Linked DNA regions of Homo sapiens: regions 1, 3, 4 and 5 are each linked to region 2. The links come from fine-mapping of genetic effects on gene expression. A gene starts in region 2. Each other region holds a variant in brackets. All regions are shown on one strand. Distances are between the middles of the regions. Region 1 overlaps ABTB2 (ankyrin repeat and BTB domain containing 2). Region 2 holds the start of ABTB2 (ankyrin repeat and BTB domain containing 2). Region 3 overlaps ABTB2 (ankyrin repeat and BTB domain containing 2). Region 4 overlaps ABTB2 (ankyrin repeat and BTB domain containing 2). Region 5 overlaps ABTB2 (ankyrin repeat and BTB domain containing 2).

The links.
Region 1: its variant is fine-mapped to the expression of ABTB2 in lung (TOPMed, PIP 0.93).
Region 3: its variant is fine-mapped to the expression of ABTB2 in monocytes after Pam3CSK4 (Quach 2016, PIP 0.95). The same link has a PIP of 0.9 or more in monocytes, monocytes after LPS and monocytes after R848.
Region 4: its variant is fine-mapped to the expression of ABTB2 in aorta (GTEx, PIP 0.91).
Region 5: its variant is fine-mapped to the expression of ABTB2 in blood mononuclear cells (TOPMed, PIP 0.98).

Annotation. Positions count from the first base shown.
Region 1 is chr11:34,328,662-34,333,661 of GRCh38, reverse strand. The region is part of intron 1 of ABTB2 (ankyrin repeat and BTB domain containing 2); the gene reads left to right. Among named protein-coding and RNA genes, the nearest start is that of ABTB2, 27 kb to the left of the region's middle. RefSeq lists a silencer at 4,074-4,274. The variant C/T (reference allele first, on the strand shown) is at 2,359.
Region 2 is chr11:34,355,431-34,360,632 of GRCh38, reverse strand. It overlaps ABTB2 (ankyrin repeat and BTB domain containing 2), which reads left to right and starts at 2,623. Exons shown (of 17, transcript NM_145804.3): 1 at 2,623-3,932. The coding sequence starts at 3,050. RefSeq lists a silencer at 2,438-2,637 and an enhancer at 3,588-3,697.
Region 3 is chr11:34,232,025-34,237,024 of GRCh38, reverse strand. The region is part of intron 1 of ABTB2 (ankyrin repeat and BTB domain containing 2); the gene reads left to right. Among named protein-coding and RNA genes, the nearest start is that of ABTB2, 120 kb to the left of the region's middle. RefSeq lists enhancers at 2,494-2,823, 2,500-3,024. The variant T/A (reference allele first, on the strand shown) is at 2,628.
Region 4 is chr11:34,192,201-34,197,200 of GRCh38, reverse strand. The region is part of intron 3 of ABTB2 (ankyrin repeat and BTB domain containing 2); the gene reads left to right. Among named protein-coding and RNA genes, the nearest start is that of NAT10, 89 kb to the right of the region's middle. RefSeq lists enhancers at 2,216-3,044, 3,212-4,097 and a silencer at 4,566-4,751. The variant A/C (reference allele first, on the strand shown) is at 2,385.
Region 5 is chr11:34,306,153-34,311,152 of GRCh38, reverse strand. The region is part of intron 1 of ABTB2 (ankyrin repeat and BTB domain containing 2); the gene reads left to right. Among named protein-coding and RNA genes, the nearest start is that of ABTB2, 49 kb to the left of the region's middle. The variant C/T (reference allele first, on the strand shown) is at 2,260.

The sequences.
Region 1 (5,000 bases), 27 kb after region 2:
GCCTCAGCCTCCCGAGTAGCTGGGATTACAGGTGAGCACCACGATGCCCAGCTAATTTGTTTATTTTAAGTAGAGACAGGGTTTTGCCATGTTGGCCAGGCTGGTCTTGAACTCTTAACCTCAAGTGATCTGCCCACCTTGGCCTCCCAAAGTGCTGGAATTACAGGCTTGAGCCACCATACCCAGCCTGTTTTTCCTTTATTTTTAGTTTTTGGGAATTTTGTTTGTTTGTTTGTTTTTCTTATTTATTTGTTTTGTTTTGTTTCTCCTTTAGTATAGATTGGGATGCATAAAGACCAGAGTCTTAAATGCACAGCTTGATGAATTTTTACCCAGACATGCCGCTATGTAACTTACCCAGGTCAAGATCAAGATTTAAAACACTCCTGCCTAGGAGACACCCTCATGGCCATTCCTTGTTAGTGTCTACCCCACATAACTATTATTCTGACTCCTGCCACCTTCAATTACTTTTACCTGTTCTTGAACTTCTGGGGGTAGGTAAATTATTAAACCTTTCTGAGCCTCAGTTTATTTTTTAAAGTGATAGTACTTGTGCTATAGGGTTGGATTAGGAGAATCAACTGAGACAACACATGTAAAATCATTCGAGAAATATTTGTAAAACCCTTGATGCTTAATAAGTTAAAGCTGTTTGTTTATGAATGGCCATTGTTGACCTCAAAGTCTTTGCCTGTTTCTCACCCAGACGAAGCAGGCATTTCCCCAGTGCTCACCATAATTCATGTTCCTGTGCCCTCCATTTCCTTCCATGTCCTGTGACTCCCTGAACGCACTTCAGAGACTGTTCCATCAGTGGCTTTCAGGATTTTTTTTTTTTTTTAACTGAAACCAGTTCTTCTTGCTTAATAAGGCAGAGGAAATGGGCAGGAAAGCAGAGTTCTCCTGCCTTTGCCTCTTTTTCAAAGAGGGTCTGTTTGCTCTATTAGCAAAATCAACAGAGGCATTGCTGGACAGCGGGCTAGGCTGGACCAACTCCCCTGGGCTCGGGGGGTGGTCCCTGGATGCTGGGTTTGCTGAGGGCCAGGAGTGGGTCACTGTGTGCTTTCAAAAGCAGCTGGAGGAGCCAGTTTTTCTAGCTCCTCCTCAAAAAACCCAACCAAAATATCTACCCCTGTGATTGGCTAAAATTATCCAATTATAATTTAATTCCCTTAGGTCAAGGGTGGATGGGTGCATAATACCCTGAGTGTGAGTGTGGGGGTTACATTTTCGGAGGGAATAATTTTGCGTGTAGGATTCCATTTGACCTTAGTCTGAATGATTACTAGCGTAGCCTTTCCTTAAGGTAGGTCTTCATGGAGGAGAAGGGAGAACTGTGCAGTGGGTAGGTGGCAGTGAAGATGCAGGAGGCTGGGACAGGTTAGAGGGTGAATGCTCCAAATTTGTGATGTGATCTAGAGCTAGGTCTGCCTACAGCCACATCACATGCATTTACAGATGCCTCCTTTACGTTAAGTGCTGCATCAGAATAGAGGCGAAAAGTTACAGTCCTGCCCTTCAGGAGCTCTGGGTCCGAAAGCAAGAATCAAACAGGCAGTTGTAATACAGGCTATTGCATACTATACTGGGAAGACCATGGCTACAAAATCAGATTGGGGGCATGGAGTTGTCATAGTCCCAGAGGTGGTCATTTGTGTTGAGATCTGAAAGATAAATAGAAGTTAGCCCTCAGGCTTGTAAAACCTGTGACTCATGTCACCATATCCTTGGGACTCTCACCAGGAAATACATTTCCAAGGATAACTTCTGCTCACTCCATAAATGAGGTTTGGCTTTTACTGAACTACTTAACACTTTTGCTAGCAGCAAAGCTGGGGTTTTTAATTTTTCTTTTTCCCGCAGTCTTGCAACCCTTCTACCCCGTGCAATGTAAACTTGAATACATAGATCTTCTGGCTCTGCAAAAGATTATCACTTCTTCTGGGTGAGTGAAAGAGGCTGGATGGGAAGATTCATTTATCAACTGAAGACTTTATTAGTAAGAGTTTATGAGTAAGAGAGTAACCTCATTACAGAGCCAGAAGAGAGAGATGTTTGTTATGGAAGAGATACCCACTTGGCATCCCTCACGTGGCCAGTCATGGTGTTTGGGGCCAGCATGCCAAATTGCTCCAGTTACCATGGGACCCAGACTTAGACAGGAAATCATGGTAGGATGGGAAGGAGTCCAAAATACACATGGCTGGTATATAGGCTACAGTTAGAAAAGAGAGTAAGAGAACAGTGTATCTATTTTCCTGAAGGAGTATTGCAACCTCAGATGGGGTTGTTTTTCCACAACTCCTTACTCCTTGCGTTTTATGGTCCTGATTTTTCAAGCTTTAATTTTTTCCG[C/T]GTTAAGCAATACTTACATGAGTTGAAGTGACCCTTTATATGCTTGTGGTAAGCACTTCTTAGGCTTGTCATGTATGCTTTTTAAAATGCCTCCAAACTAAAAAGAAGCCAAAGTCCCTTCAATCAGGAGGACTTTATTCTTCAACACGTGGAAGGAATATCTTTTTGGTTTTACCACAGCTGTCTCTTTCCTGCAAGCAGCCCATTTGAAACCCAGAACTCCCTCGTTTTATGGGATGTGCTGGTGGAACATAGGAGGGGGTCCACTGGAAGGCTGGATTTCTTGGAAATCTCTGCTGCCAAGCTCAGCAACTGAAATTTCTCATTCATAAAGAGGCAGATTTGCATCCTGCCCATGAAGTTGTTAAAAGAAGTTGGAGAATCAGGAAGGGGATCTTACCTGTACTTTTGCAGATGTAGCTCTGGAAAAGTTCCAAAGGGATCTGACTGCATGCACATAGCTTGGGAACAGTTCCAGGCCTCCAGAGGAACATTTAACAGGTCACTATTGATAGCATTTTCCATGAACCACCCTAACATATTTCTTGGGAGTGTGCTAAACTGTTGATGAAATGACAGTTATAGCATGGGGTTTGCACCCCTATGCCTCATTGACAACTATCTCTCTGCTGGATTGGGTATAATTTATCAATTGAATTTATTTCATAAGTTTATTGCCTTTACCCCACACTATGATGTTATAACCATGGCCATTTTAGGAATGAGAGGTGATGACAATAATCCCTAATACAGGTACAGTTTCTCATGGTTTTTACAAAGCACTTTCACATTCTTTCTCATTTGATCTCACAGCTATTATAGCTACCATTTATTGTGTCTTTCTATATATCAGACACCTTACTAAACACTTTATAAACTTTACCTTATTTAATTCTTAAAATAACTCTGTGCAACAATACTCTGATTTGTTCCCATTTTACAAAGAAGGAAACTGAGGGTCAGAGAGATTGGGCCTCTTGACCCAAATCCTAATCTTGGATCTAGGGTAGACTAGGGATTTGAACCTAGATCTACCCAACTCAAAGCCCAAAATACCAGGCAGTACTGGCTCCTATTCTCCCTGTGTTAGAGGCAGAGGGCTTTGTTTTCCTTTAGAAGAAAATGAAGTGCAGAAGGGTTTACTTGAGGTCCCATGGCCAAGGAGTGACCCAGCAGGGACCAGAAGTCAGGAGTCCTGAGATCAGTGCTTTGTCGTTACCCAAGACCTGTTTATCTAAGCAGTATTCCCCAAGTGAAGTCCCTGGCACTTCCCAGCCAGCAACCACTTGGTCAGAAATAGCCAGTCCTGGACTCATACTTGGGCACAGAGATGGGACGGAGTTCTGGGAATCCAGTGCATCATTCTCATTTCCTAAGTAATTTAAAGCTAAGAAACCATAAAGTAGCTTCTAAGTACACTTCTGTTTACCATTTCAGTGTCAGGACTCTGCAGGCTACAGACACAGTTGAATTTACTGGCTTGTTTAAAAGTCCCAAAGTAGGATTGGCTTCAGGTACACTTTGACTCAGAGGTTCACTGGTACCTTTGGGACCCTGTTTCTTTTGCTTACTCTTGCTTCTGGATTCTGCTCCTGGGTTGGCTCCATTATCTGGCAGCCTTTCTCCTGTGGTTGCAAACTAGCTGCAGCAGCCTCAGCTTTGAAGCTGAGTAGGAAAGGGGACCAGTTGGCTTCTTGTGATAGCTCAAAGATTCTGGACTTGAGTCTCGTTGGCTCTGATGGGCCTGGCCTAGGTCATGTGCCCCATCATTGAACCAGTCATTGTAGTCCATAACCACATGCTCCACCCCATGCTGAGAGGGAAGGTTGGGAGCCCTCATGGCCTGAGAACTGTAGGTCAGCTGTGGATAGAAGAGGAAGATTGGATGCTGTGGAGAGAAGATGCTGGGTGATCTGGGCAGGGGGGTGGAGTGGGAAGTGGGATGGAAGATGGATCTGGAAGGAAGTGGAGTGGAAAAACCAGTCTTCTAGAGAAACACATCACCACATTAAGTAGGGCAAGGGTAACTTTATTTGAAGAGTTTCAACAGACCATTAATGAGAGTATCTTTTGGTTGCTGCTGTTAGAGCAATTATTTGTTATATTCACTGACTTCAGTGTTTATTTGTTCTAATGAAACCTTTCCTCTCTGAAAGAGAAGCACTTCTTTAGAGGGTGTCTTAAATATTCAGATTACAGGTTTGAAGGAGTGAGCCATTTAGGTGCTGAATAGCTTGCAGGCTGGGTTTATTTCTGTCTTAATGGGATCTTAAATTGTGCCAGATGAATTTAAATGTTACTTCTCTTCTAGTCTATCTCTGACCCAGTGCTACCTTGACATACTTGAAGTTTTAGTTCAACTGTTTGGTCTAAACTGAGTGTTGACAATTATTATTGAAAAGTTCATCTCGTAGATTTTTGCTTTTAATCAGCTGTAGATGCAAATAGAAGGTGTGACCATATGAGAGGCCACGTGTTTTCAGGATTCTGGATGGCTAAGTGGCCAATTTGCTTTCCATTTCAGAACTAAACCAGACAAGGAGGGGTGTTATAAAATGTTCCTTTTGAAGTACCTACAACTAACTAGATCCAGATAGTGTGAATGTTGAGAGCCAATAAGGGTTCCTTGAATGCCTGCCCGG
Region 2 (5,202 bases):
ACACTGGCCAACTCCCAAAAGTTGAACTGAAATCAAAGAATTGGTTCATTCTAAGATGGCTGGATATATATATATATATATATATATATATATATATATATATATATTCATCTCTATCTATCTTCCTCCTATTCTTTTTCCCATATCACACAAAACACAAACACAGACACATTCTGGGTTTACTTGGTACTGCCAGTCCTCAGGCTGACTAGAAGACTGAGGAAAATTTGAAAGACAAGAGATCTATCTACAGTCTTTCCTAACTTCCTAGTCCCTTTACCAGATTTTTCCATGAGGATTTGTCTTCCTTTTTTCCTTGAGGAAGCCAACTCTTGAGGGCTACAAAACACTTATTTCAGCATGTGTCTCTAAAAGATAAGAACATTTGATAAATATAACCACACTACCATTACCACATCAAAAAAAAAAAAACAGTTATTCTTTAAGAGCAAACATCGAGGCAGTGTTCCTAATGGTTTCATAATGTCAAATGTTTACTGGCTTTTTAAAACAAATTCAAAATACACATAAGTTCCACACCTTGTAATTGGTTATTATGTCTTTCAAGTCTCTTTAAATGTGTAGGTCTTCTCTCCATCTCTTTCTTTCCTTGAAACTTATTTATTAAAGAAACTCAGTTGTTTGTTCAGAAGCATTTCCCATGGCTGAATTTTGCATAATATATCTTCATGTTGCAGGTCAACATTCACAGGATTCTCAGATTCAGTTGGAGGCATGTTTGATTATCTACACTTTAAGTCATCAAGTAATTTGAATATATTAATATAAATCCCATAGGCTCTTTTTCCCACTCCAGATGATTCCTCCAATAACCTTTCATTCAGTAAGTTCCCCGTTGTAAATTTCCAGTTAAGTAATTCTCTTTAGGTTTGATGGGTGCGCACAACGAAGAAAAGGGGGGACAGGGAAACCTTTCTGAAATTCATTTCCTTTGAATATATCCATTAGAGGGCGACATTGCCTTTAATATTATATTTCCCCAATAAAGTTTTAAATTGCATAAAATTTACTTTTGTATTTTTGACAAGTTGGACCTCATTGCCTACTTTAATTTCTAATCTCACGTCTGTAAAGTGTGACTGCATTCTCCTTTGTTAGTTTGATCTCTGCTGACTTGCGTCTTTGGTATTACAGTACTTCCATCTTTGACTCTGTTCCCAATTCTAACCATCGGGCGGCGATGTTGCATAAATAAAGACCCGCGGAAAGGCAAAATTAAGCGAAACTGCCAAATAAAAAGCAGTTTCACCGGGGGTAAAGGCCATTAATTTAAGAAGGAAAGAGACAAACCAGACATTTCTAGTTCATATCCAACTCACGGCCCAAGGTCAGAACTGTGTAAAATGCAACACAAAGGAGCCATTCAGGAGTGGGGGAGGCTGACTTGGGGAGAGCGAATGCACAATCCCCGCCTTGAGCCTGCGGTTCCACTGGAGGGGGCACAGGTCCGTTTGCGCACGTGCGTGTGAGTAGCCACAGGGCAGCGGCGGGACATGCCTGCACCGGGCATGGGACTGCTGAACCAACAGCGCTCTGGCGGACCGTTTGGGACACCCGCCCGGAGGCAGGTTGGCACTGGCGCTGCCTGGAGGTCAGCCACTCATTGTACCCCGGAGGAACTGGGTCCCGCGGGGGCATACGGCTCGCCCACCGGCACGCGTTAGGAGGCGAACACCTGCATCCAGCTAGGTGTTCCGAGCTCAGCCCAGGGCGAGGGACTGCTCTGCCACCTTCTTCTCATTCTTCCTGTAAGAACACTGTCTATCTCGGACAAAAAGGACCCACCTGACAGCAAGTGGTATCGTCACACAGAGGTAACAGGGAAGTCACGGATCCTCTTGAGAATCTGACAAAAGTTGGTGCCCCTTCCCCATAGTGGCACTCAGAAAACTGCAGGTGAAACCACAAATGGGCGGAGGCACTCACAGGCTTCCTGGGGCCCGTCCATTGATCAGATACCAGGTTAAGAAATTCTGTCCTTATTGGAGCCTAGACGGCAGCGCAAAGGAACCAGACGGACTTGGAAAGAGAGGCAGGGACTCCCTCCTCCCTCCAAACACAGCCAGCGTTTCATCTCGGATTGCGGGAGGGGCCTGGCGGAAGGTGGAGGAGAGGTGGAGCGCCTGGATGGGGCCCTCCCCATTCTCCTGGCCCCAACCCCAGGACGCCTGGCTGCGGAGGGCTCGAAAGCGAGCAGCGAACGCCCAAAGCCTGGGTGGCGGGAAGGTGGCAGCGCCCTGTAGCTTTTCCTTTGCATTTTTCTTTAAATCGTGAGCTCCGGAGCTATCGTTTCGACCGCTGCTTTCCGGTCTCCACCTCCACCTCCCAGTTGGCTGGCTCGCCCTTCCCCCACCCCCCCATCCCCCCCATCCCCCCCCATCCCCACCCCCATCCCAGCCGCGTGCCCGACCCTCGGCCTCCAGCCCCGCCTCCTTCGCCGCGGGGTTTAACCCGAGGCAGAGTGAAATCTGCATAGTGACCGCCCCCTCGGAGATCATTGGTGCAGCCCCGCCCATCGCGGCCGGTGATTGGTAAGCCGCCCGGGGTTATTTGCATGTCGGACGCAGCCGGGTACCCAGCTGTGCTGCCGGCCGGCGCAGCGCAGAAGTTTGCAGAGCGCTTTCTCGCCGGCTGGTCCCGGACTCGCGCTGCGCCCTGCGCCCTGCGCCGCCGCCTCCTCCTTCTGCCGCCGCCGCCCTGTTCTCCCGGGATTCCTTCTCTGTGGAGGACTGACTCTCTGCTTGTGGGAATTAGAGGTGGACAAGGGGGAGTGCCGGGGGGTAGCGACGGGGTTCTTTCCAGTGGCAGCTGCGAGTCGGGACGCCGGGAGCGTGGGGCTCCTGCTGGCCACGGATCTCGGCCACCTTCCCGCGGCCTCCGGGCAGGCAATGCGGCCGCCGAGCCCCGCGACGCAGAGAGGAAGGAGGGTGGCCCGGAGGGCCTAGAGCTTGTTTCTGCCCACTTGGGAAAGAGGGCATGGAGTTGTGAGTGCCCCTCGCTCGGCGACGCCGCCCTCGGCAGGCTCCCCATGGCCGGGACGTACAGCTCGACTCTGAAGACGCTGGAGGACTTGACCTTGGACTCCGGGTATGGGGCCGGGGACTCGTGCCGCTCGCTCAGCCTCTCGTCCTCCAAGTCCAACTCGCAGGCGCTCAACTCTTCGGCGCAGCAGCACCGCGGGGCGGCCTGGTGGTGCTACTCCGGCTCCATGAACAGCCGCCACAACAGCTGGGACACGGTGAACACGGTGCTGCCCGAGGACCCCGAAGTGGCCGACCTCTTCTCGCGCTGTCCGCGGCTCCCCGAGCTGGAGGAGTTCCCCTGGACCGAAGGAGACGTGGCCCGGGTGCTCCGCAAAGGCGCTGGCGGCCGGCGGCTGCCCCAGTTCTCCGCCGAGGCGGTGAGGCGCCTGGCCGGGCTGCTCCGCAGGGCACTGATCCGCGTGGCCCGCGAGGCGCAGCGCCTGAGCGTGCTGCACGCCAAGTGCACCCGCTTTGAGGTGCAGAGCGCCGTGCGCCTGGTGCACAGCTGGGCGCTGGCCGAGAGCTGCGCGCTGGCAGCCGTCAAGGCGCTGTCCCTGTACAGCATGAGCGCCGGCGACGGGCTGCGCCGGGGCAAGTCCGCGCGCTGCGGCCTCACCTTCTCAGTGGGTCGCTTTTTCCGCTGGATGGTGGACACCCGAATCTCCGTGCGCATCCACGAGTACGCAGCCATCTCCCTCACCGCCTGCATGGAGAACCTGGTGGAGGAGATCCGGGCCAGGGTGATGGCCAGCCACAGCCCTGATGGCGGAGGGGCCGGAGGCGGGGAGGTGTCTGCTGAGGCCCTGGAGATGGTCATCAACAACGACGCCGAGCTCTGGGGCGTCTTGCAGCCCTATGAGCATCTCATCTGCGGCAAGAACGCCAATGGTAAGCGCGCGGGCCTCGGACTGGCAGACTGGGTAGGCAAGAAATCCCGCCCTGGGCTACTGGGGGAGTGAATTTCCTGAGACAAAGCTGGTGGCTGTGCCAGTTCTTTGGGAGAAAACGTTTGGTCTGAGGATAGGGTTCATTACATGGCACTTGCCAGAGATTGTTCTAAGGGTGTCTGACTTTTGGAGGGTAAACTTGTGAATGATCTCCATCCTGTTCTGCGTGGCATTGTTACTATCTGCGGGCTGTTCATTGATTGGGTGAGATTGAATCTCTTGACCAAGCCATTCCTGAACCTCTCTTGAAATGAAACTTACTGCCCCGTGGCTCTTTACCGTGATTGACTAGGTCTCTAGCTGCTGTCTTTCCCCAACAGCTGGTTAGATTGACTGATTCTGCCCCCTAGTTTTCCCCAGCTCAATAGCAGCAACCAAAGGGTCCCAACTTAAAGACCTGAACCTTGGATAAGTAAGATGGGCGGAGGGAAGTGGGAAGCCCAAGATCTGGTGCTGCGCCTTGTGCTTTGCTGGGCTGAAGGATGCTGTCAGGCGCTCTCTTGGGGGATGGAGGGGTAGTGGTTCGCTCTTACCTATATGTGCCCAGGAATGATGAAACCTGGGGACCCCGACTCCCCTTCCCAGAAAAGTAACCACAGATTGTCTCCTGAGACCTGATTTTTCCAAGCTGTCACCAACCAAGTGAGCCATTGGTTAAAACCTTGCATTGTATTAAATGTTCTTTCCTGAAAAGAGTGGTGGCCCATCAAGGGGAAGAGATAGGTAACCGCATGGGGTCAAGTCTGGGAAAGGAACCATTGGGTGGTTGCACTTCCCTGAAGATAGCATGGATTTGGTGCAAAGGATGGAAACAAAGCACATGACCTTTTCCCTGACAATGTTAGGGGGTGTGACATTGCATTCAACTGCAAACTACCTACAAGACTTCAGTTTGAGAAGTCAGCACCATAAACTGTTCAGAATGGTATTATGGTTAAACAGCCTTACGATCTGATTGGAAGGCCATTTGGGGGGCAGCTTTCAGTGGCAAATAAGCAGGCAGTGGAAGAGGTCAGGTGGGGACTGGAAAGGGATAAAAGAAGTCAAAACATGGTTTAACATAATCATAATAGCTGAAATGCAAAATAACCCTTAATGTGTCGTCATTATTCTCAGCACTTTGTATTTAACTCAAGTACTCCTAGCAAGCCTATTAGGTAGGTACTTACTGCATAGTATGATGCCCATTTTACAGATAAGGAAACCAAGGT
Region 3 (5,000 bases), 120 kb after region 2:
ATAAAATACTTCTAAACAGCTTGCTTCCCTTGTACAGTTTAAATGATTTTGTCTTTTTGCATACATTCAACTTTCTCATAAACTTGAGGTTCACCAAGGAGAGAATTATTTCCCCCACAGATAATAGCTGCCAAAATAGAGTCCGAATCCCTGAGGGTTCCCAGATGGCTGGGCACACCCAAGCTGCAGAGGCTGTCTGGAATGATTAGGGCAGAGGAAGGTGCTAATCTATCTAGGAGCGAGCAGCTTTGCGGCTGATGCGATTTCGTTTATCTACCCTCCTCGGTTCTTTGTCTCTTTATCCTCCTGTCTCCCTCCTGGCCTGGCTAACAGGCCTGATGTATCGGCATCTCAATCACTTCTGCTTCCCCAGGAGATCAAGGCCTGGCCTTGGGCCCTGAGGCCTCCCGGAGTAAATCAGTGGATTGAGGGGAGGGGGTGCCGGGGAGGCATCAAAAGAGAATGGGGTCCTCTGGCTTCAAGCTACCTAAAATCTGCTGCTTAAAATGCTGCTGTTAGGGAAAACTGGCGGCACAGAGTCCTTCTCCAGCCCTAGAAATAACCTCTCTGAAACCTGTCGAGTGACCCACCCCAAATTAGAAAGAATTTTTTGTCTTAAAAGGCACATTAAAGAGAGTCCTGTGTTTTCTGCCCTGTGCCTTCTGGAGGTAGAAGACAAGTGTGAATTCTCTACCCTTCTACAACAAGAGCAAAGGAAGAAGAAAATTTCCATATTTTCTCAGCTATTTCAAAACACATTTTTTTACCTTTCATATGAAGTGACTGTTCCAAATGACCTCTTCTTTCCAGGGAAAAAACTCTATTTTAATACTTTTTCTCCCCTCCTCTTTCTCCAGCCCTGTCTCTTTTTTCTATTTTTAATCTCCCTCTGCCAACAAGAATATCCACGGACTTCCCACCTGGCCTTTACCCTTCTCTTCCTTGCAGGGGTGTACCCACCAGCCTGCACCCGATGTCCACGATGTCTGTCCACCCCAGAACCCAGCAGCATCTCTCCCCGTCTGGCGCTCAGCCTGCTTCTGAGTGTGGGCAGCAGGGAAGCTAGGCGCTGTGCTTGCCCAGACCACACAGCTGTCTCTGTTTAGGGCTTTGCTGCCTGAAAGTTTGTTTCAAGGAGGAACAGGCTCTGCTCTGCCTTCTCAGCTTGGTCTCCTTACCTGGGGCACAAAGAGTGTTCACTTAGCTAGCGCTGACCTCCTGCAGCTAATTAATGCCTCTAGCATGGATCAGAAAAAGCTCTGCAAAGTGCAATTAGCGATGGATCACTTGTTGCTACTTCATAGGAGTGGTGTCAGCAGTATTCATGGCTTGTGGCTTAAAAGCCAGAAGGAGATCCCCAATCAGGTCCTGGATGGCTCTGATAGGCAAATCCTCTTAGGAAGGTGGGATCACAGGCACCAATTCCTTTTGACCTCCCCCGCTCCCCTTCCTGTGGGGCTTATTGAACAGAGGCTAATTCATTCAGTATTGGAGATGTAGCAGTTTATTGTGGGGTTCAAGATCCTTGTCATCTCTGAGGATAACAGAGAGAGCCCTTTTATTGAACTCTTGCTATGTGTCAGGCATTGGGTTTAGTGCTTTATGCGATATGTTCATAACCACTACAGAGAAGAAACCATATCCGCTTTACAGATGAAGAAACTGAGGTCTAGAGGTTAAGTACTTACCCCGGGTCATGGTCAGATATTTGGCTGATGGCATTCATTTCTTTTCTAGAAATGTCTTGAGCATCTATGTGGCTGACATTTTTCAGGCAATCCCTGCTATGCAGAGCTTGCATTTTAGAGGGAGTAGGGGCACCAGATACTGAGCAAGTAAGCAAATTAATAAACACAATAATCTCGGCCGGGCACGGTGGCTCACGCCTGTAATCCCAGCACTTTGGGTGGCTAAGGCAGGCGGATCACAAGGTCAGGAGATCGAGACCATCCTGGCTAACACGGTGAAACCCCATCTCTACTAAAAATACAAAAAAAAAATTAGCCAGGCGCCGTGGCGGGCGCCTATAGTCCTAGCTACTTGGGAGGCTGAGGCAGGAGAATGGCGTGAACCCAGGAGGCAGAGCTTGCAGTGAGCCAAGATAGCGCCACTGCACTCCAGCCTGGGCGAAGGAGCGAGACTCTGTCTCAAAAATAAATAAATAAATAAATAAAATAAACACAATAATCTCTGTATAAGTGCTTCAGGGAAACTAAAAGGGCCCTCTTCTGTGGCAGAACTGGGATTCCCAGTCTCTGAGGTTAAGCAGGAGCAGGTAGCATTACCCTGTAAGCTGGGAGTCGCAATAGGCAATTAGTTACCTGACTGTCCCAGGGCTTGGCACTGCCTGGTAGCCCTGCCTTTTCATAAGGAAAAGATTCCGCACAAAGCACTTTACCTAGGTTTTGTGAGAGGCGGAGCCAGAGCTGGCATCCGAGGTGTTCTCACAATGCTGGACTTTGAGGCACAGGAGAGAATTGCATTTCTCCTCTGAGCAGTGGAACCAGCCCTGGTGCCTCCCTTGCCCAGCCTCACCCTGGGACCCTGGGTGTGAGTAGTTAGTCTTGTTATCAGTGAGAGTAACCCAGGAATCTCCCTGATGGGGAAATCCCAGGTAATTTACTGTG[T/A]CTCTGATATTCCGGTTACAGCCTCTGCTCTAGAAAGGCCAGGGAGGGGAGAATCTAAAAGTTCTCCATTTCTCGCTTGAGATGGCATCCCCCCATGCTTTCCTTAGGCCTCCTTGAGTAAGGTGTCTGCAAATAGCTTCTCAGCATGACTTCACCCGGAAGCTCATCTGAGTGACTCACAGCCTGCTTTAGGCACCTCCTCCAGGGAGACGCTCTTACCCTTGCCCCCACCCCAACAGGGGAGGGGAGGGGAGAAGGGAAACCCCCTAACTGAGCCACGGAGAAGGCCTTGCCAGAGCACTGTGGAAAATACCTGCAGCCCAGCTTGGCCCTGCTTCAGGTGCCCTGGGATGTATGGTTTCTCTAGTCTTCTGAGAGGGATCAAGCTGACAATTCAAATTTGAGGGAGCGATGACCCTGGAAACTGTGTAGGTCTTAAAAAGAAATATATATCCAAACACACTGACCTGAAAAGATGTCCACAAAATACAGGATTCAGCATTAGGTGAAAAATAATTTCATTATGTTCCTGTTTCTCAAATTCGGTTTGTGATTTTAAAAAATTGATAGGTTAGTACATGTATTTGTACATGTACTATTTGTACTAAAAGCCTATTTGAAGAAAAATTATAATATATTAATAATAGTTATCTCTGGGAGGTAGTATTAAAAGAAACTTTATTCATTATTCCTTTCTGATTTTTAAAAAATAATCATAATTACCTTTATAATAAAAAAAAAAAAGGTGGGCCAGGTACAGTGGTTCATGCCTATAATCCCAGCACTTTGCAAGGCCAAGGCAGATTGCTTGAGCCCAGGATTTCAAGACCAGCCTGAGCAACATGGTGAGACCTTGTCTCTACAAAACATTTTTAGAAACTTAGCTGGGTGTGGTGGTGTACCCCTGTGGTCCCAGCTAATTGGGAGGCTGAGGCAGGAGGATTGCTTGAGCCCAGGAGTTTAACGCTGCAGTGACCTGGGAGGCGGAGGCTGCAGTGAGCCAAGGTCACACCACTGCACTTCAGCCTGGGCAACAAGGAGGCTCTGTCTCAAAAAAAAAAAAAGCTGCAGTGAGCCATGATCATGCCATTTCCCTTCTGCCTGGGTAATAGAGCAAGACCCTGTCTCAAAAAGAAAGGGTTGTTTTTTTGTTTTGCTTTGTCTTCAAAAAAATAAAAAGAAAAATCCTCATGCACCAAGCCCAGGTGTCCTAATTGTGTCCTCATTATTAAATGCCTAACTTCCCGTGGTGGACTGTTAGCAGGAAGCGACTGGGATGGACTTAACATTCACTTAGCAAACAGCTACCTCCCTAGCCACTGGAGGACCAAACCACTATGACAGGGTGTCTCCCTTCAGTGGCTCCCAGCATGATGGAGGGGGTAGTATATGTTTTGCGGGGCATTTGGGGTTTTGGGGGGAGGTTAGGGGGTTTTTTGAGACAGAGTCTCCTTCTGTCACCCAGGCTGGAGTGCAGTGGTGTGATTATGGCTCACTGCAGCCCTGACCTCACAGGCTCAAGAGATCCTCCCACCTCAGCTTCCCAAGAAGCTGGGACCATTACGCCTGGCTAATTTTATTTATTATTATGTATTTTTTTTTAAGAGACAGAGTCCCACTATGTTGCCCAAACTGGTCTCAGTGATCCTCCCACCTTGGTCTCCCAAAGTTCTGAGATTACAAGTGGGAGCCACCATGCCCCCTGACCAACCACCACCCTGCACCCAAGGCCAAGGGCTCGATAAATACTTTGCAAACAAATGGATATGTAAATGAGTAGATACTAAGTGGTCTGTGAGAGAAGGCTACAGATTGTGGTGGGGCTTCAGAAGGTCTCGAGAGGTCCCTTGCTGGGGATTAGGTTAGGCCTCGTGATGGTGCTTCTGGGATATTCCTTTTCTCTAGGATTTAAATGTCTCATTTAAGAACAATTTTTTTTTTTTTTTTTGAGACAGAGTCTCCCTCTATTGCCCAGGCTGGAGTGCAGTGGCGCGATCTCAGCTCACTGCAGCCTCCGCTTCCCAGGTTCAAGTGCTTCTCATGCCTCTGCCTCCCAAGTAGCTGGCGCTACAGGCGTGCACCACTATGCCCTGCTAATTTTTTGTATTTTTAGTAGAGATGGGGTTTCACCATGTTGGCCAGGCTGGTCTTGAACTCCTGACCTCAAATGATCCACCCACCTAGGCCTCCCCAAGTGCTGGGATTACAGGCATGAGCCACCACTCCCAGCATAAGAACAATTTTAGATTTACATGAAAGTCGCAAGAGTATTACAGAAAGTTTCCAGATACCCCACACCGTTTCCCCTATTAACATTATTAACTAAAGTTCATACTTCTTTAGGATTTCCTTAGTTTTTACCTAATGTCCTTT
Region 4 (5,000 bases), 160 kb after region 2:
CCTGTGAGGAGGTGGCCCAGGAATTCCGATGGATGAAGGCCTGCACTGGTGTGCAGTGGGATTTTTTTTTCCTCTGAGCTGATGCAGCATGGGGCCACTGAGGCTCAGAACGTGTGCTTCTGCCTCTGTGCCCAGTCTGGCATGAGCTCACTGGGCTCTCTGAAATTCAGCTGCCTTGTTATAAAATGAGATAGTCACACCCACCTAGAAAGGTTAGTGCTCTGAGTAAAAGCATGTAGGATGGGGGCTAGGTGGGAACTGGCCCTTGGCCAGTGGTAGCTGTCACCTCTTTTCATGGGTTTATCCCATTCAAAAGTGATCAAATGATCATTGCTGCCGTCATTGTTATGAGGGGTCCTGGGTGTGTTTTGCCCCATCCATTCATTTAACACAGGAGACTATCCTGGCCCTGGCAGCTCTCTGATCTCCAGCAGGTTAGTGGTTGAATAGCCCCTGGACCCAAGCCTGTGGGCTTCTAGTCAGGTACTTTCACTAGAGGGTCCCAACACTTTCCTAGCTGGGAGCAAGGCTGCAAAGAACAGATGTGCAGGTTGTATACTGCACAACAGAACCCAATGAGGGGCATGAGTAGGGGATGCACGTGGGGCCATGTCAGCCTGAGGACAGGATACCTTTTCTTTTTTTTTTAGACGGAGTCTTGCTCTATTGCCCAGGCTGGAGTGCAATGGCACAATCTTGGCTCACTGCAAGCTCCACCTCCAAGGTTCACGCCATTCTCCTGCCTCAGCCTCCCGAGTAGCTGGGACTACAGGTGCCCGCCACCACGCCTGGCTAATTTTTTTGTATTTTTAGTAGAGACGGGGTTGCACTGTGTTAGCAAGGATGGTCTCGATCTCCTGATCTCGTGATCCACGCGCCTTGGCCTCCCAAAGTGCTGGGATTACAGGCGTGAGCCACCGCGCCCGGTCTTAGGATACCTTTTCTAATGGGTTTTCTCTGAGGGCTGCCTTTTGAAATTTTCTACCTGGAAAATATAATATTTTTTTTATAACTCGTACCAAACATTGTATATGCTGGCATGAGCCTCACATGGAGGCCACTGCTTGGCCACTTAAGGTAAGGTCTGTCCATGGGCTCAAGAGTTGTGGGTTTGAGGGTCCAGGAAGTGGGAAAGGCTTGCACTCAGTTTAGGAAGCCCCATCCACACACATTTCACCACTCAGTGAAGCCCAGGAAAGGCAGAGCCCACGGGCCTCAGTGCCCCACCTGGAGGGAGACGATCTGAGACCTCAATATTGGAAGTCCCAGGGGCTCTGCAGTCCCCTTGCCTGGCTGTCCGCTGTCTTTGGGGGGCATTGAGTCTCATCAGCTCTGTGATCCACAGCTGGCTCCACAGCCAGGTCTGCTTCCTCAGTGCCCCAGAAAACAAAGGCACTAAGGTGGATTTACTGAGTGTTTACTATGTGCTAGGCACTGTGCTGAGCAGTTTGCAGGCGGATGCTCAGTTAATTCACACACTACCAAGAAAGAGGTGTTCTTCAGAGCCCCATTTACAGATGAGTAAGTGGAGGCTTGGAGAGACTAACTGGCCCCACGACACAGGCTCATAACCACTACACTGTACCTCCTGTCACTAAGAGGAATATAAAACAGCAGTGGCCCAGTACACGCATAGTAGGGTCCCAGTAAATGGTACCATTGCTGTTATCAGTACTAGTATCCTTATGTCATCATTGTTTTACTTCTCTGGGAGTTGGAGGGCAAATGCAAGTCTGAGGAGGGCCACCCTGGGCCTGACACAGCAAGAAGGCTGCAGGTGGAGCCCTGGGCATCCTGAAAGACACCTTTGGCGGGAGCTGGGGCCAAAGCATAGGCCCTAAGCCCCAGCTGTTCCTGCTTTGTGGAAAAGTGTTGTGGTTGAAGGAGTCAGCTGGGAAGGAAAAAGAGCAGGGAAGATATCTGGGAGGAAGAGGCAGGAGGCTTGCTTGCTGTTTGGTAAGGTGCTGGGCTGAGGCCGGGTCATTCACACAAAGGTGACTGGGAGGACAGGCGCCTTCTTCAGGCCTGTTGCCCTGGCTGCTGGGCCCTCAGGCTGTCATGGCTATAGGCCCAGGGGCAGTCATTCCTCTGCTGGCACTTTCTCCCGCCCCCACTCCCCCCCCCCGCCGGGCATCTTTGTCATGTCCTGTGGCTTTCCCCCAGGAGGGTTCCCAGCCCCCTGTACTCTAATACACAGCATCAGGGTTTCTTCATGATCTGAGTTGCACAGCCCTATGTGGTTATAATAGCTGAGCTTGCATGGTAGTAGACACACGTGCATGTGTTTACGTAGCCATTTATTTAAAAACCGCACTATCTGTAGCACAAATAATTTGGTAGCAAAGATATTTTTCCATGAATCATTTCAAATGAATATCAGACAC[A/C]TGGGGAATTGGAACCCCCATTAGGAAAAAAAAAAAAAAACCAAATTTTTAAGTTATGACACAGAAAGGAGGACAACCCTAAAAATACCTGAGGGAGCCAACAGCCCGACGGCGCCCTGGTGGCCTGGCTCCTGTCGCTGAGCAGATCTGCTGCCCTCTGGCTCACTGACAGGGAAGGCCCTGGAGGCTGTGGGGATCCTTCCTGGGAGCGCTGAGCTTACAGCATTACTGCAGGCTGGGCTGGGCCAATGTCCCATCAAGGCCCCAGCACCCTGATACCCTCACCAGAGCTCTGGGGAAAACCTCTCCTGATGCAAATAGTAGCTGGAGTTTGCTAGGGTTCCAGAGTGGCAGAGCTTTGCTTTTGTGAGTTTGGGGATGTGCGACGTCTGTCTCTTGCTCCACTTCATCCTCCTGAAGCCCCGTCCTCTGTCCCACCTGGAAGCATGGCGGACTGAGTTCACCCAGCCAGAATTGGACGGAGCCCCTGATTTCAATGTGACCGTGGTTGTCTGGCTGTAGAGACTGTCTGTTTGGGGATTGGTGGCTCTCTGGGTTTGTTTGGGATTAAGTGACCTCCTCTACTGCCTTGCACACATGGGAGAGGGAGCTCAGTTTGGTGATATGGGTTTGGCAGCATGACATCATTGATGGAACCACTCAAGTCTGTCCTCATATTTCTGCTTTAAAGAAAGGTACCCTGATTCCTTCAATTAGGGGCTATGTGTGACCACATCCATGGCGACAAAGGGAAGGGACGTGTGTTCATCTCTTTTGTGTGGAGCTCACTGTGGCATTCCCTGCTAAGCCACCTGCTGCTTCTGCAGTGTTTGGTGGGGACTTCACATCTTTCCGTAAGGGGCCTTCTCCCCAGAGCTCTCTGCTCTGGTTTGGGAGAAGAGACAGTGGGAGGAGGGAGGGGCAGAAGCAGCAGGAACTCAGAGTGGTGAGCGGGCAGCCTTGCAGGGAATGAGAAGCCTCTAACCTCCTTTCATCTACTCCTGCAGTGAGCCTGGTGCATCAAGAAACAGTACAGGCTTTGGGGCAGAGGCCTGGGCTCAGAGGGCCCTTCCATGCCTTAGGCTCCTCACCTGTAAAATGGGGCTAAGTAATTCTATCCGGTAGGACAAAGTCAGATAACATACGCCCTTCTTTTAAAGCCCATTTCTACCTACTTCTAGGCCCAAAGAACTTCAGCAAGTTTGGTGCTATCATTACCTCCGTTTCACAAGTGAGTACAGGAGGCCGCGGGGTACCTGGCTGATAAGTGGCGAGGCCAGGATTCAAACCTGAGGTCTCTCTCACCTCAAGGCCTTTGCCTTTCCCTGTGCCAGGCTGTGGCTTTCCCAGCTGGCTGCTGAGACCTGATCCTACAGCACTGAGGCATGCTGGGTGGGCCCTGGCCTTTGGGGCCACCTTCTCTGGGGCCATTCCAGCCCCACCCCCTCACTATCCTGGGAAAGCTCTGCAGCTGGAGCCTCCCTGCACCCTTCCAGGGTGCCTTTCTCACTGGCAGCTTTGCATCCCAGGCACCAGCCAGGCACAAGGCAGAGTCTAAAACACAGAATTAGTCACAGCTGCTGCCCTGCAGGGTGTGTCATCACCGGAGATCAAGCTTAGAAAGTGAAAGAGCCTCTTGTCAGGGATCCAGGTTGCCCAGGGAGATCGGGAGCCTCCTTCCTCTGAGGTCTGGAGGAGAAAGGACAACCATCTGGTTAGATGTGGCCCTTGCTGGTTGTGCCTGGGGGCAGAGGGATGGGCTAGCTGGAACAGAATCTTTGGCAGAGGATATACCTCCTCAGCCATCACCCTTCTGGGGAATGAGAGGTCTGGGGCAGTAAGGATAAAGACTACGCAGACACGTAGGAAGGCAAGAGGGCCGCCCGCTTGCCAGCAAATTGCTGGAAGGCAGCGTCATCAAGTAGAGGAGACAGAGGGAGACATGCAGTCAGAGGTGCAGAGGGCCTGAGGTCGACAGGAGGTGACCATTTCTCCACATCAGAACCTGGGCTGCTGGAGGGTTTGGGGTCCCCCAGGCACCCTTCCAGACTGCATCTACTGTGAGCAGCAGCAAAGAAGCCAGACCCTTGAGGAGTGGCCAGGCAGAGAGAGTGGGAATGGCAGAGGGCCACTGGTCCACAGAGCGGTCCGCTTGCTAAGCCTCAGATCCTGGCCTCTTGCCTCGTTCTCCCCAGCCCTGCACAGCACGTCTCCGCCTCTGTGGAGGGTGGCACACTCAGAAGGCTTGGAGCCTGCTGGTATCCAGGACATGAAAACAGGAGGAGTGTGGAACCCTTCCCAGAGTTCTGATTGGGGGTCGGGCCTAGAAACCTCTGGTGTCATGACTTCGTAGCCAGCCAGAATAGCCCCATCTGAGGAGGGCCCTGCTATTCAAAGGCGTGCATTTGAGATCTACCTTGCCACTTTTTATAACCTTCAACCAGTCATTTAACCTCTTCAAGGCTCTTAATCATCTGTAAGGTATGCGGACCCAATGAGTTAACATATTTGGGGGGTTTTCTTGGAAACAGGGTCTTGCTCTGTCTCCCAGGCTGGAGTGCAGTGGCACAATCTCAGCTCACTGCCTCTTTGACATCCTGGGCTCATGCAATCCTC
Region 5 (5,000 bases), 49 kb after region 2:
GAGATGCAGCATCCTGGAGCCAGTGAAAGCTAGAGCTCTGAGGAGCCGCCTCTTCTCCCAAGGCCAAGAAGGTCAGAAACTGAAGGCAGTGGAAGGGGTCAGGCTGTGCATACAGCCCCTTTGACATGGAGAAACGGCATCTCTCTGTGGTTTCCTCAGGACCAGCACAAGTCTGACTGGTATCCTCCATCAGGACCTTGGCTGAAGAGAGGGACCACCGGGGAAATTGCTTCCCTTCCAAAAACAGCACAAATGCACACATTTGCTCTCACAGCTGTTTTTGAGTGTGTCGTGTGGGGAGCTGTGCAAGGGACTAAGGATATGAGATGCAGGTGACCATCAGTGGATTAATGAAGGAGACGCACATTAAAGAGCATAACCTCCATGCAGTCCACCCACGGAGGAGAGCCATGTTCCTTCTTAAACAGGGGTCCGTGACCCAGTTGGGTAGGAGGACTTGACTAGCAGAGGGAGGGTGCTGGGGGGTGAGGGAGGTGCAAGGAAAGGGAACAGCATGTGTGAGGGGCCCTGAGGCTGAAAAGAACAGGAACTTAAAGGCTGGAGGGATGCAGCGGAGGTTGATGTGGTCAGAACTGTGCTCTGAAAGGAGGGCTTGCTCTGGCTGGAGGGATAGGTGTGTGAGGAGGAAACCCACAAGGGCACCATGGAGTACTTCAGGGGAGAGGCAAGGCAAGCTTGGGGACGTGAGGGTGGCGGTAGAGAGAAGCAGCAGTGACAGATTTGGAAGTTGATTCGAAACTCAGAGGGTTGCAGGGAGGGGTAGGTGAATCGGGACTCACATTTCTGGCACTCACAGCAGGGTAGATGCTGGAGCTTTAATTGAGAGAGGGAGAGACACAGGACAGGGGCCAAGTTTAGGGTATCTGTGGAATAATAAAGTGGTAAAGTGAAAATGGGATAATGGATCTGAAGATAAGGATTTGAAAGTCATCTGCATATGGATGAGGGATTACTTCTCGAGCCCTTCCTGGGCTCTCAGTGCTTTCCTCCCTGAGCTCCTGTCATTGATGAGCAGGAGACATACATACTGTGCTCCTCCCCCTTTTAGATGCAGGGCGATTGCTCAATGTAATAGAAGTTACTATCACTGTTACTCAATGTCAAGGTCAAGCCCAAGTGATCGCTAGGCCGCTGTCAGGAGTGATCCGGGTTTCCTGACACCTGAAGTTAATACAGTTAAGGAAAAGAATCCAAAATTACAAATGCACAATGAGATATAAAAGTGAATATTTATTTAAAATGAGAAAAATTTGTTAAAGCTGACACACATATCACAAATCAATAACTTTAACTGCCTGACACACCTTGACAATACTGTTTTTCCCCATCTTTTTTTTTTTGACTCTGATCACCTCTTCCTATGACAATGATTCTGTACTGTTTTCTAAAGGAACAATTGAGACTTCCCTTTAAAATAGTTAACCAAAAGTTTGTTTTTCTTTTCTCCAATGGTTTTGAAAATTTTTTTTTTTAACTTCATAACTCATTATTGGTGATGTCAAGTATTAGGATTGTTGTCAAATTTGGGGAAATCGTGGCCACGTTTCTTTCATTTCTGAGCAGTGAGATTTGGAAGAACTTTCCACAAGCCTAGCTTCTGACTCTGTCCGTCATGAGTTTCGTTTCTCCTCTGCTCCCAGCACTGCCTCTGGTGTTGAGCACGGTAATGCCCGTTCATATCTTGATATAACCTCTGACCTGCACCCTTGTGTCATAACACATTTTGCAATAGGAGTCCTTCTGGAAGTCATTGGCATAAGGGATTGTTAGTGATGTATTAACTCTAAGTGGATGTGACTGCTAACCACTGAACCCAGCTGACTGTATCCCCAACTCAATTTCCTTCAACAAGGTCCCCAAAATGCCCACCCAATGCATGGGAACATGTGGTCAGTTGCAGTGGAAAGAGACAATGGTATCAACTGACAGTGGCTAATCTTACTTTGGCAAAAAAACACACGTCCATGTGAACACATTGCCAGGCCCCCTCCAGAAGTTTTGGAAGCAACCTGTATAAGTAGAGGCTGCCTGAAGTTTACGCTTCTTTGGCTTCGTAGTAAATCTGCCTCTGCTGAAATCTCAGCCTATCAGACCATAGAGGCATTCAGGATTGCAGCACATTCATGCCTTGTAAGTGCCAAAACATTGTCATTGCAATAAAATTTTAATTCTTCGAGACCAAAGCATTTGAAAAGCATTTCACACAGTTTCCTGTTTTCTTTGCTTTTCTTTCTTTCT[C/T]TTTTCTTTTTTTTTTTTTTTTTTTGAGACAGTTTCCTCTCATTGCCCAAGCTGGAGTGCAATGGCATGATCTCAGCTCACTGCAACTTCCACCTCTTGGGTTCAAGCAATTCTCCTGCCTTAACCTCCTGAGTAGCTGGGAATACAGGCGCCTGCCACCCACGCCCAGCTAATTTTTGTATTTTTAGTGCAGACAGGGTTTCACCATGTTGGCCAGGCTGGTCTTGAACTCCTGACCTCAGGTGATCCACCCGCCTCGGCTTCTCAAAGTACTGGGATTACAGGTGTGAGCCATTGCACCTGGCCAGTTTCCTGTTTTCTTAAACAGTGAGTGAGCTGCATAGATGTGACTATGTTCTTGATGACTCAAGATCCATGAGTATTCTTACAGTGCTTGTGCCCTCAGGGAGTGACCCCAAGATGTGATCGAATGTTGGTCCCAATATTAAATGGCCCCACACTGCAGTCTTAAGTTTTTATGCCTGCTTTTTGTGTTGTAAATGTTTAAGCCCTTCTAATGCTGTTAGCTGTCATTTCTTGCTGCTTTAAACAAGCTGTGGCCTGAGAAATAAAATCAGCCATCTTCTTTCAGTCAGTAGGCTGTTTTGAGGACTTGTTATGTGTCAGGTGATGGGCTGGAAATTTACATATAGTAGCAATGACTAATAATCACAAACATCCATTGCATGCTTGCCCTGTATCCTGTATTCCAAGCTCATCACATGTGTCCACACATGTAATCCTCACAGTAACCTAGGAGGTCGGAGCTACTGTTGTTATCCCCGTTTTGCAGATGAGGAGGCCCAGACACAGAGAAGTGAAGTAACTTGCCCAAAGGGTCCTGATTCCAAAAAATCCACCTTTTGATTCCATCATGCTGTGACTTAGAGAGTCATCTAGCTGGGTGCAGTGGCTCACGCCTGTAATCCCAGCACTTTGGGAGGCCAAGGCAGGCAGTCACGAGGTCAGGAGTTCGAGACCAGCCTGACCAACATGGTGAAACCCTGTCTCTACTAAAAATACAAAAATTAGCTGGGCATGGTGGCGCGTGCCTGTGATCCCAGCTATGTGGGAGGCTGAGGCAGGAGAATCGCTTAAACCCGGGAGACGGAGGTTGCGGTGAGCCGAGATCGCACCACTGCACTCCAGCCTGGGCGACAGAGCGAGACTCCGTCTCAAAAAAAAAAAAAAACAGAGAGTCACCTAACTATGAGGCCAGACTCAAACCATTAACATAAGAATCAGACCAAGAGAGCACAATCTGTGTCCCCAGGGAAATTACACTTTGGAAAATGTGTGAAAGGAAAGAATTTGTAGTGCCCTCTCTCGGAGAGCCATGAACAGGGTCTATGGCGTTTCTGTTGACTGCTCAAACTCTTTCCTTCATTTCCTGCTCATTGGCTGCATTCTGGATGGTGGAGACTGCTGAAGAGCTCAGTGCTGGGGGTGTGAGCTGTTCTCCAAGCATTTTAGGATGTAGTGGTAATACAGGTTATGCATATGAGGAGGTGGGGGAAGATGTAGGGATAAACATGTGATCTCGTTGAGAGAATGTGGCTGGTCACTTCTCAGTTCTGATCTCACAGGTGTTTTAGAGAAGTGACCTAATTGTGCTGGACTCCTCCTTTTTGTGACCTAGCAACCTGTTACCTTCAGGGAGCACTAGGAGCATTGGTTGCTGTTGAACAGTTCTCACAATACCAGGATGGAGGGCTCTCACCCACAGAAGCACAGGCCTGCAGGAGCCTAGGTGACTTGGGTTGTCCTTATGACTTAGGATACCAGGATCTAACAGACGAATTCATTCAGGGAGACATGCAGGGAAGTGTACCCTACACGCAGTGGCCCTTTACTGAGTCTTCTTAAAGTTCGTCTGCTTTTTTTCTTTCTTTTTTTTTTTTTTTTTTTTTTAAGTTTCCTGACATGGTGCTAGCTGTCATTGCTTGCTATGGCTGGAAAACTAGTAAGCAAGCTTCACTTCAGTCCAGAGGCGTCTTTAAGTACCTGCTATGTGCTGAACTCATCAGAACTTTCACACAGCAGAATTTCCCAAATAACTTCTTTGAAGAATTCTATAAAGTAATATTTGTCTATAAAAAGGAAAAGATAACTAAAGAAAGTGGTGTACCTTCCAATCTTTCTTTTCTCGGTTTTACTTATTTTTTTTTTAGAGACAGGGTCTCACTGTGTCACCCAGGCTGGAGTGCAGTGGTGCAGTCATGGCTCACTGCAGCCTCACACTCCTGGGCTCAAGCCATCCTCCCACCTCAGCCTCCTCAGTAGCTGGGACTACAGGCACACACCACCACATCCAGCTTGGAATGTCTTTTTAAAAAACAGCTTTCCAGTCTGGGCGCAGTGGCTCACGCCTGTAATCATAGCACTTTGGGAGCTTGAGGCAGGCAGATCAGCTGAGGTCAGGAGTTCGAGACCATCCTGGCCAACATGGTGAAACCCCACCTCTACTAAAAATACAAAAATTAACCAGGTGTGGTGGTGCACGCCTGTAATCCCAGTTACTCAGGAGGCTGAGGCAGGAGAATCCCTGGAACCTGGGAAGCAGAGGTTGCAGTGAGCCGAGATTGTGCCACTGCACTCCAGCCTAGATGACAGAGAAGACTCCGTCTCAAAAAAAAAAAAAAAAAAAAAAAAAAAAATCAAACTTTCCAGGCAGCTAGTGGGAGCCATTTGCTTCAAGCTTTGTCCTCCCCTGTTGGGTCTACAATGTTGTATAAGGAGAA